Linked DNA regions of Homo sapiens: region 2 is linked to region 1. The links come from fine-mapping of genetic effects on gene expression. A gene starts in region 1. The other region holds a variant in brackets. All regions are shown on one strand. Distances are between the middles of the regions.

Region 1 (4,235 bases):
CCTTCTCAGCAGCTCCGAGTCCACTCCGACGCCCGCGCGACCCGGCGCTCCCCACCCGCCAGGGCCCGGGCCGGCCGCGGGGTGCACTCACCGCCTCGCAGGCGCACAGCACGCAGCGCATCACCCCGAATGGCTCCCCTAGGTCCGGGTGCCACGTCTCGTCCAAGGCATAGACCTTCCCGCCGAAGGTGCAGCCTGCGGGGACGGGCTTGGCTGGAGGCCGCTGCCCAGCTCGCGCCGTGTGCCGCCCCGGGGGCTGCCCGCGGGTCCCGGGTCCCAGGCACCGCGCCCTTCTGCCCCCGCCCACCCTCCGGGCCGCCCGCCGCGCCGAGCCACCTGCGCCCCGCGCCCCCTCCGGGCTGGCGCTGACTCGCCCCGAGCCCGACTCCCCGCCCGCGCCTCCCCCGGGCGCCCACCTACCTGCCGCTCCCCGAACGGGCAGCGGCTCCTTCTCAGAACGGATGGGCAGCACGGGGGGCTCTGGGCCGGCGCCGCGGGCCGGCCGGGAGCCGAGCAGCAGCAGCCCGAGGAGCAGCAGCGGGGCCGGCGGGGCCGGGAGGCTCGGCATGACGCGAACGGGACAGCTGGGGAGGAGGGAGGGAGGAGGGCGCGGGAGCGGGCGGAGGGAGGGAGGCGGGAGTGCGGAGGGCGGAGGGCCGGGCCGGGGGCGGTGCGGCGGGAGGGGGCCGGGGCCGGGGCCGGGGCCGGGGCAGTGCCGCGAGGGGCTCGTCGGGCGGCCGCAGAGTCGGCGCCGGGCCGGGCGGGGCGGGAGGAGCGGCCGGGAGGAGCGCGGGCGGGCGGGCGCTGACCCGGGCCGTACGCGGCTCTACTGCCCCGGGCGCCGGCTCCGGCCCGTTTTATGCCCCGCGCCCGACGCCCCGGCCGGGGGCCTCCTCCTCAGCAAACGGGGCGGCGGCGGCAGCTCGGCGAGGGGCCGGGCTGAGCCCGGGGGGTCCGACCCAGCAGCAGCGGCCCGGATCGCGGGTGGGGGAGGGGAGGGAGGGGCTGGGACCGGGCAGGGGAGGAGGGAGGGGCGGGAGGGGAAGGGGGAGCGGGGGAGGGGGAGGGGAGGGACCAGGGGGCGCGAAGAGGGGGAGGAGAGGCGGGCCCGGAGCCCCCCGCTGCTGGCGGCCACAGGGCGGCTGGACCAGGAGGTCGGTGTCCAGCCCAGGAAGGGAGCCTCAGGCTAGGGAGGGGCAGAGGCTAGGCCTGAGGCCTGGACCGCTCTGTGAGCGAGGACCCGGTTCCGCCCGAAGGATGAAGACTTGTCTTTAAAGATGACAACGTACAGGAAAGGTCCATCAGCCGATCTCCCCCTGCCTGGGCCCACAGCGCCCCCCAAACCCTCACCACCCTCTCTCACTGCCTAGCCTGCCTCCCTACCTTCTCTCTGAGGTCGCTCCTCATTCTTGTGTTACCCAGGACAGGGACCTAGCCAGAAACCGGCAGCATTCCCCCTTCTGTGGAGTGACAGTATCTCCCTCTCATTGTAACTTATCCTCAGGCGCATTCGACAGTCCCCTCTTGCTTTCTCACCCCCTTCCTTCACCCAAGGGACCCTCTGCCTCTCCAGCCCACTCCCAGCCTCCTTTCTCTTGGTTCCCTGGTCATGCCTGCCTCCCTGTCTCCTGTCTCTCCCTCCCACACACACCCACTATCCTCCCAGCTATCCCAGCACCCTCCTTCCTAATCTTGGGAGACATCTCGTCTGGCTGGACGGGAAAATTCCAGGATCTAGGCCACACTTCTCAGCAGACATGCCCATCCTTGGGGAGGAGGAACAGGAGAGAGCCTGAGGAAGTTCTGGGGGACAGGGGGATGATGGGATCAAGGTCAGGCCAGGAAGCCCCTGAGGACAGAGACTGTGGGGAGACTGGGACTGGGAAGAAAGCAAAGGAGCTAGAGCCAGGGCCAAAGGAAAAGGGGGGCCAGCAGGGAGGTATTTGCGGGGGAGGTCCAGCAGCTGTCTTTCCTAAGACAGGGACACATGGGCCTGGTTATTCCTCTTGTCACATGTGGAACGGTAGGAGATGGAAGACGGAGACAGAACAAGCAAAGGAGGGCCCTGGGCACAGAGGTCTGTGTGTGTAGCCATCTAAGCCACTGGACCCCAGCAGACGAGCACCTAAGCTCAGGCTTAACCCAGTGCACGTGTGCGCACATACATGTGCCCCGCACCTGACAGTCCACTCAACCCGTCCAAACCCTTTCCCCATAACACCAACCCATAACAGGAGATTTCTCTCATGTGGGCAATATCCGTGTTCCCACTTCGAAAGGGGGAATGACAAGATAGGACTCCCTAGGGGATTACAGAAAGAAAAGCAGGAAAGCAAGCATCCTGTTGGATTTCAGCAGCAGGTATGATGTCCAGGGAAAAGAAATTTGGATAGCCAGGGAGTGAAAACCCCACCAATCTTAAACAAGACCTCTGTGCTTCTTCCCCAGCAACACAAATGTCCTGCCAGATTCCTCCTGGAAAAAAACTTCTGCTCCTGTCCCCCTCCAGGTCCCAGGTTGCCCATGTCCAGGAAAAGATGGATCCCCCTATCCAAATCTTCTCCGTGGTGTGTGTGGGTGGAGGAGTGGACCCTGGTCCAGGCAGGGGCTCCAGGGAAGAGAAGGCGTCACTTCCGGGGGCCTTCACCAGTGTCTGGTGGCTCCCTTCTCTGATTGGGCAGAAGTGGCCCAGGCAGGCGTATGACCTGCTGCTGTGGAGGGGCTGTGCCCCACCGCCACATGTCTTCCTACCCATCTGCTCCCCAGAGGGCTGCCTGCTGTGCACTTGGGTCCTGGAGCCCTTCTCCACCCGGTGAGTGGCCAGCAGGGTGTGGGGTTATGTGAGGGTAGAAAGGACAGCAAAGAGAAATGGGCTCCCAGCTGGGGGAGGGGCAGGCAAACTGGAACCTACAGGCACTGACCTTTGTCGAGAAGAGTGTAGCCTTCCCAGAATGGGAGGAGCAGGGCAGAGCAGGGGTAGGGGGTGGGGTGCTGGTTTCTGAGGGACTGATCACTTACTTGGTGGAATACAGCACAGCCCTGGCTGGCCCTAAGGAAAGGGGACATGAGCCCAGGGAGAAAATAAGAGAGGGAGCTGCACTTAGGGCTTAGCAAACACAGTAGTAAGATGGACACAGCCCCAATCCCCATTCTTAGCTGGTCATTCCTCGTTAGCTTAAGGTTCTGAATCTGGTGCTGGGGAAGCTGGGCCAGGCAAGCCAGGGCGCAAGGAGAGGGTAATGGGAGGAGGGCCCACTCATGTTGACAGACCTACAGGAAATCCCAATATTGAATCAGGTGCAAGCCTCTTTGCACAACTTGTGAAAGGAGGAGGAAGCCATGTGGGGGGTCCTGTGAAGGAACCGGAAGGGGTTCTGCCAAGGGGGCAGGGAGGCAGGTGTGAGCTATGAGACAGATATGTTAGTGGGCGCCTAAGACAAGGTAAGCCCCTAAGGTGGGCATCACCCAGCAGGTGCCCGTTCCTGGGCAGCTGGTCTCAGGAAGGAAGTCCCAGAACTGTTAGCCCATCTCTTGGCCTCAGATAATGGAGTATTTCAGGACTTGGAGTCCAGAGAAAAGCTCCAGTGGCTTTATGTGTGGGGGTAGATAGGGAAAGAATAGAGGTTAATTTCTCCCATACCGCCTTTTAATCCTGACCTCTAGTGGTCCCAGTTACAGCTTTGTGCAGTTCCCCTCCCCAGCCCCACTCCCCACCGCAGAAGTTACCCCTCAACATATTGCGCCCGTTTGCCAGTTCCTCACCCAGGCCCTGCATCCCATTTTCCACTCTCTTCTCCAGGCTGAAGCCACAATACTTTCCTTCTCTATCCCCATCCCAGATTTTCTCTGACCTAACAACCAAGGTTGCTCAGAATTTAAGGCTAATTAAGATATGTGTGTATACATATCATGTCCTGCTGCTCTCAGCAGGGGTAGGTGGCACCAAATCCATGTCCGATTCACTGAGGAGTCCTGACAAAAAGGAGACACCATATGCTTTCTTGCTTTCTTTCTTTCTTTCTTTCTTTCTTTTTTTTTTTTGAGACGGAGTTTCACTCTTATTGCCCAGGCTGGAGTGCAATGGTGCGATCTCGGCTCACCACAACCTCCGCCTCCCAGGTACAAGCGATTCTCCTGTCTCAGCCTCCCAAGTAGCTTGGATTACAGGCATGAACCACCACACCCTGCTAGTTTTTTTGTATTTCGTAGAGCCGGGGTTTCACCATGTTAGTGAG
Region 2 (4,235 bases), 69 kb after region 1:
TCTAATCAGACACCAGGTCTTACTGGTATTTGGATCAAAATCAAGTCCTATTGATCTTATCTTTTAAAAAATAACTATTCTACCCTTCCCTATGTCCCCATTTCAACTGCCTTAGTTCAAGCATTCATTTTCCTTGCCTGCTCTCCTGTCCTCCAGGGTTAGCTTTCTCACCCAGATAGCTGATCATGTCACTTTTCTGCTCTCATTCAGTGGGCCCCATTGAAAGATACTGTCAAATTCTTAGCACAACAAAGCTCTTGTAAACCTAGTCTGAGCCTGAATTTCCAGCTGTATCTCCTACCACCCTTTTCCCTGGCCCCTATACATTTAGCCAAACCAAATTATCTGTAAGTTTCTGAAAACAGCTTTTCCTCCTTCTTGCCTTTGCTACTCCCTTAGCTATATTCTGCCCTCTTTTCCTCTGTACAAACTTATCTTCCTCTAAGGATATAAGCTTCCTCAAAGTCCCCCGATTGCCCCAGGCACTTAGGCCCCATCTCAGTGATACCAGGGTACCTTGTTCACACCCTGGTAAGTATCGATCACAGTTGTTTTCATCATTTCATTAAACTTTTTGAGCATAGGGGTTTTTTTCTGTATTTGCATCCCCATAAATTAGACGAATGTCTGATGCAGAGTAAGGCTCCACTGCTATTCACTGATGAATGAAGAACTAAAGGTGAAAGGTTAAAAGCCACTATGAAACTGTCTTATTCTAAAGCACAATCACCTAAATCACAATTTGGGAGAGAATCATTCTTTTTAGTTTACAAATCACTTTTTATTCTAACATCACCACCACTGGAAATCAGGTAAGGCAACTACTATATCCACATTATATAATAACAGAGGCTCATCACATCACACATGCTAACTTGAAGATTATGGCAGGAACCATAAAGGGGCTCAACAGGGATTCCTTAATCCTGTTTCAACCTTTTTATACAGGCTGCCAAGATGACTCAATCCAAAATTGCTGATGTCTCATGCCTGTAATCCCAGCTACCTGAGAGGCTGATGTGGGAGAATCACTTAAGCCTAGAAGTTCAAGGCTGCAGTGAGCCATGATCATGCCACTGCACTCCAGCCTGGGCCACAAAGTGAGACTTTGTCTCTAAAAAAATTTAGTAATAAAATAACTGGGCCAGGTGTGGTGGCTTACACCTGTAATCCCAGCACTTTGGGAGGCCGAGGCAGGTGGATCACAAGGTCAGATCGAGACCATCCTGGCCAACATGGTGAAACCCCGTCTCTACTAAAAATACAAAAATTAGCAGAGCATGGTGGCGCATGCCTGTAGTCCCAGCTACTCAGGAGGCTGAGGCAGACAGTCTCTTGAACCCCAGACGCAGAGTGAGCCGAGATCACGCCACTGCACTCCAGCCTGGGCAACAGAGCACGACTCTGTCTCAAAATAAATAAATAAATAAATAGCCAGGCATACTGGCTCATGCCTGTGATCCCAGCACTTTGGGAGCTGAGGTGGAAGGATCCCTTGAGGCCAAGAGATTGAGACCAGCGTGGGCAACACAGCAAAACCCCCACCTCCACAAAAATAAAAGTAGGCCAGCTGTGGTGGGTCATGCCTATAGTCCTAGTTACTACTTGGGAGGCTGAGTCAGGAGGATCACTTGAGTCCAGGAGTTTGAGGCTACAGTGAGCTATGACTGTGCCACTGCACTCCAGACTGAGTGATAAGAGTGAGACCATTTCAAAAAAAAAAAAAAAAAGCCAGAAGTGGTGGTACACACCTGTAGCCCTACCTTACCTGCTTGGGAGGCTGAGGGTCAAGCCTTCTTGAATCCACTTTCTACAAGGACATCCTAGAAGTAGATGTTAACATGATCAAATTCCTCATAGCAGCCTCCCAAGAGGGACAGATGGTTGCGGGAGGTAAAGATGTCCTTTTCATTCAGTAGCACGTAAGTCAAGTTAGAAAAGTATGAGGCTGCCCACTCTTGGGCATCCTTAGCCCAAGGTCAGAAGATGATAGGCTTGAAGAGGGTGTATTGGTGGTGGAGGGTGAGTGTGGGGGGTTATTTACAGGATCCACAAGCCCCCTGAAGTTATTTGGAAGAGTTTGTGTAAAAATTTGTGTATTTGCGTCTCCTAGGAAGAATATCCATTGGCTGGGCACGGTGGCTCACACCTGTAATCCCAGCACTTTGGGAGGCCGAGGCAGGTGGATCATCTGAGGTCAGGAGTTCGAGACCATCCTGGCCAACATGGTGAAACCCCGTCTATTAAAAATACAAAAATTTGCCGGGTG[C/T]GGTGGCTCACGCCTATAATCCCAGCACTTTGGGAGGTTGAGGCAGGCGGATCACAAGGTCAGGAGATCGAGACCATCCTGGCTAACATGGTGAAACCCCGTCTCTACTAAAAATATGAAAAATTAGCCAGGCGTGGTGGCAGGTGCCTGTAATCCCAGCTACTCGGGAGGCTGAGGTAGGAGAATGGCGTGAACCCGGGAGGTGGAGCTTGCAGTGAGCCAAGATCGCACCACTGCACTCCAGCCTGGATGACACAGCGAGACTCCATCTCAAAAAAACAAAAACAAAAAACAAAAATTAGCCGGGCGTGGTGGCAGGCACCTGTAGTCCCAGCTACTTGGGAGGCTGAGGCAGGAGAATGGCGTGAACCCGGAAGGCAGGCGTTGCAGTGAGCCGAGACTGCCTCACTGCACTCCAGCCTGGGGGAGACAGCAAGACTCTGTCTCAAACAAAACAAAACAAAACAAAAAGAAGATCCATTACATTTATTGGCTTCTCAAGGGTTCTAAGAAAATGCAAAGAGAAGATGATTAGAAAGGAGGGGCTTAGTTTTTTCCACCCAGGGGAGGGAAGGGGCTCAGTTCTTTCCATCCAGGGCAGTGCTGCTAACCTAAACTCAGCGTTGCTCCTAACAATGCCCTCTCACTTCCACTCCTTACTCTAGTTTAGACTCCAGCCATGACACCCCAGAAAACAGACACAGAGAGACCTTGGGGATAAAAGTCTTTATTGAACAACCTTATCTCACTCAGTAACAAAAGAGCAGGAGGCGACAATTCCCCCAGAAGTCTGCAGCCGTGTCCACCCTTGGCAGCAGGATGCATGGCCTGCTGATAACATCAGCTGCAGTTCAGAGCCCCTGGTGGTCACTTAGAGATCATAATTGGGGTTCTTCCGAAGGATAACAAAACCTTCCAGAATGGGGGTAACAGGAAGAAACTCCTCAGTGGCCAATTCTGCCCGTTCCCCGTGGGCCAACAACACTGGGGTTGTATGCGTCTGGAACCCTGTGATAGTCTTCGGCTTGCCAGCCTGGCCCACCACATCCACTGCCTGTAGGGTAAGAAAATTGAAAAGAGAGATGGAAAAGTAGCGACAAGCCACCGCCCACGCCAGTTTCAGCAAAGCAAGTATATGTACATTCTCCAGTTTGAGAATACAGCCTGAGCCCTCCCCTCTACTCAGCCTCTCACCTGGCCCACACGGACAGACACTGGCAATGGCCGCAGCTCCTCATCAAACGTAACCAGCATTCGGGGCTGCATGGCAGCCACCAGCCCATACAATACATAGTGTGATTTGCCTAGAATAACTGAGGGAAGCAGACAGGACAAAAAGTTAAGAGACAAAAAGACAGGCCTGGCCAGAAACATTGAGAGCCCACCTCAGCGCTGACCCTTTAACCCGTCAGTCATACGACTGAATCCACACTCCTCCCCTCATACACCCTACTACGAACCAGAGACGCCCCCACCTCACTTTGCTTACAGCCCTTAGACTTGAAAATCGCATTTCCCCAGTGACTTAGGAGCAGACGCTGGGCACATCACCCTCAAATCTCTTTGGGCCAGATCAAAAGTGTGGGTGATGAAAGTCTCATGTCACAGGCCCAAAGCCTGTCTCAGAAACCTAGAGCGATACAGAGCTAAACTGGGGTCTTGAACCTAAATTATCAAAGTGGCCCTGGAAAGGGTGGAGTCAGAGCCCTGCATGCTATGATATAAAATTTCTGACAGGAACTCACTGTTTCGAACATCCAGGAAAGAGACAAGCACAGTGAGCAGTCCAGCCACGGCCACCTGGCTCATAAGCTGCCGGTCGCTGTGGTAGGGGCAGAGGGTAAGGGTGCCCTTCCCTAAATGTGTCAGGCCCTGAAAAAAACAGAGGGAAGTAGAGGTGAGGAGTTACCACTGAGGAGACATCGCCTAACCCAGCCAAACAGAAATCTCCCACTTGGTCACATCT

Direction of the effects. Positions count from the first base shown, and alleles are read on the strand shown. Sizes are in standard deviations (SD) of each study's normalised expression.
In carriers of allele C in region 2, the expression in skeletal muscle of the gene that starts at base 2,680 in region 1 tends to be higher than with T alone (large effect, 1.1 SD a copy in FUSION).

What was found. PIP is the estimated chance that this variant, and not a neighbour inherited with it, causes the effect. A credible set is the group of variants that fine-mapping cannot tell apart.
Region 2: its variant is the best candidate, but not a certain one, in a credible set for the expression of THPO in skeletal muscle (FUSION, PIP 0.55).

The regions. Positions count from the first base shown.
Region 1 is chr3:184,376,652-184,380,886 of GRCh38, reverse strand. THPO (thrombopoietin) reads left to right here and starts at 2,680. Exons shown (of 6, transcript NM_000460.4): 1 at 2,680-2,812. CHRD (chordin) reads right to left here and starts at 833. Exons shown (of 23, transcript NM_003741.4): 1 at 421-833; 2 at 92-195. The coding sequence starts at 568.
Region 2 is chr3:184,307,796-184,312,030 of GRCh38, reverse strand. PSMD2 (proteasome 26S subunit ubiquitin receptor, non-ATPase 2) reads right to left here. Exons shown (of 21, transcript NM_002808.5): 19 at 4,015-4,141; 20 at 3,464-3,582; 21 at 2,981-3,323. The coding sequence ends at 3,141. Among named protein-coding and RNA genes, the nearest start is that of EIF4G1, 4.7 kb to the left of the region's middle. The variant C/T (reference allele first, on the strand shown) is at 2,270.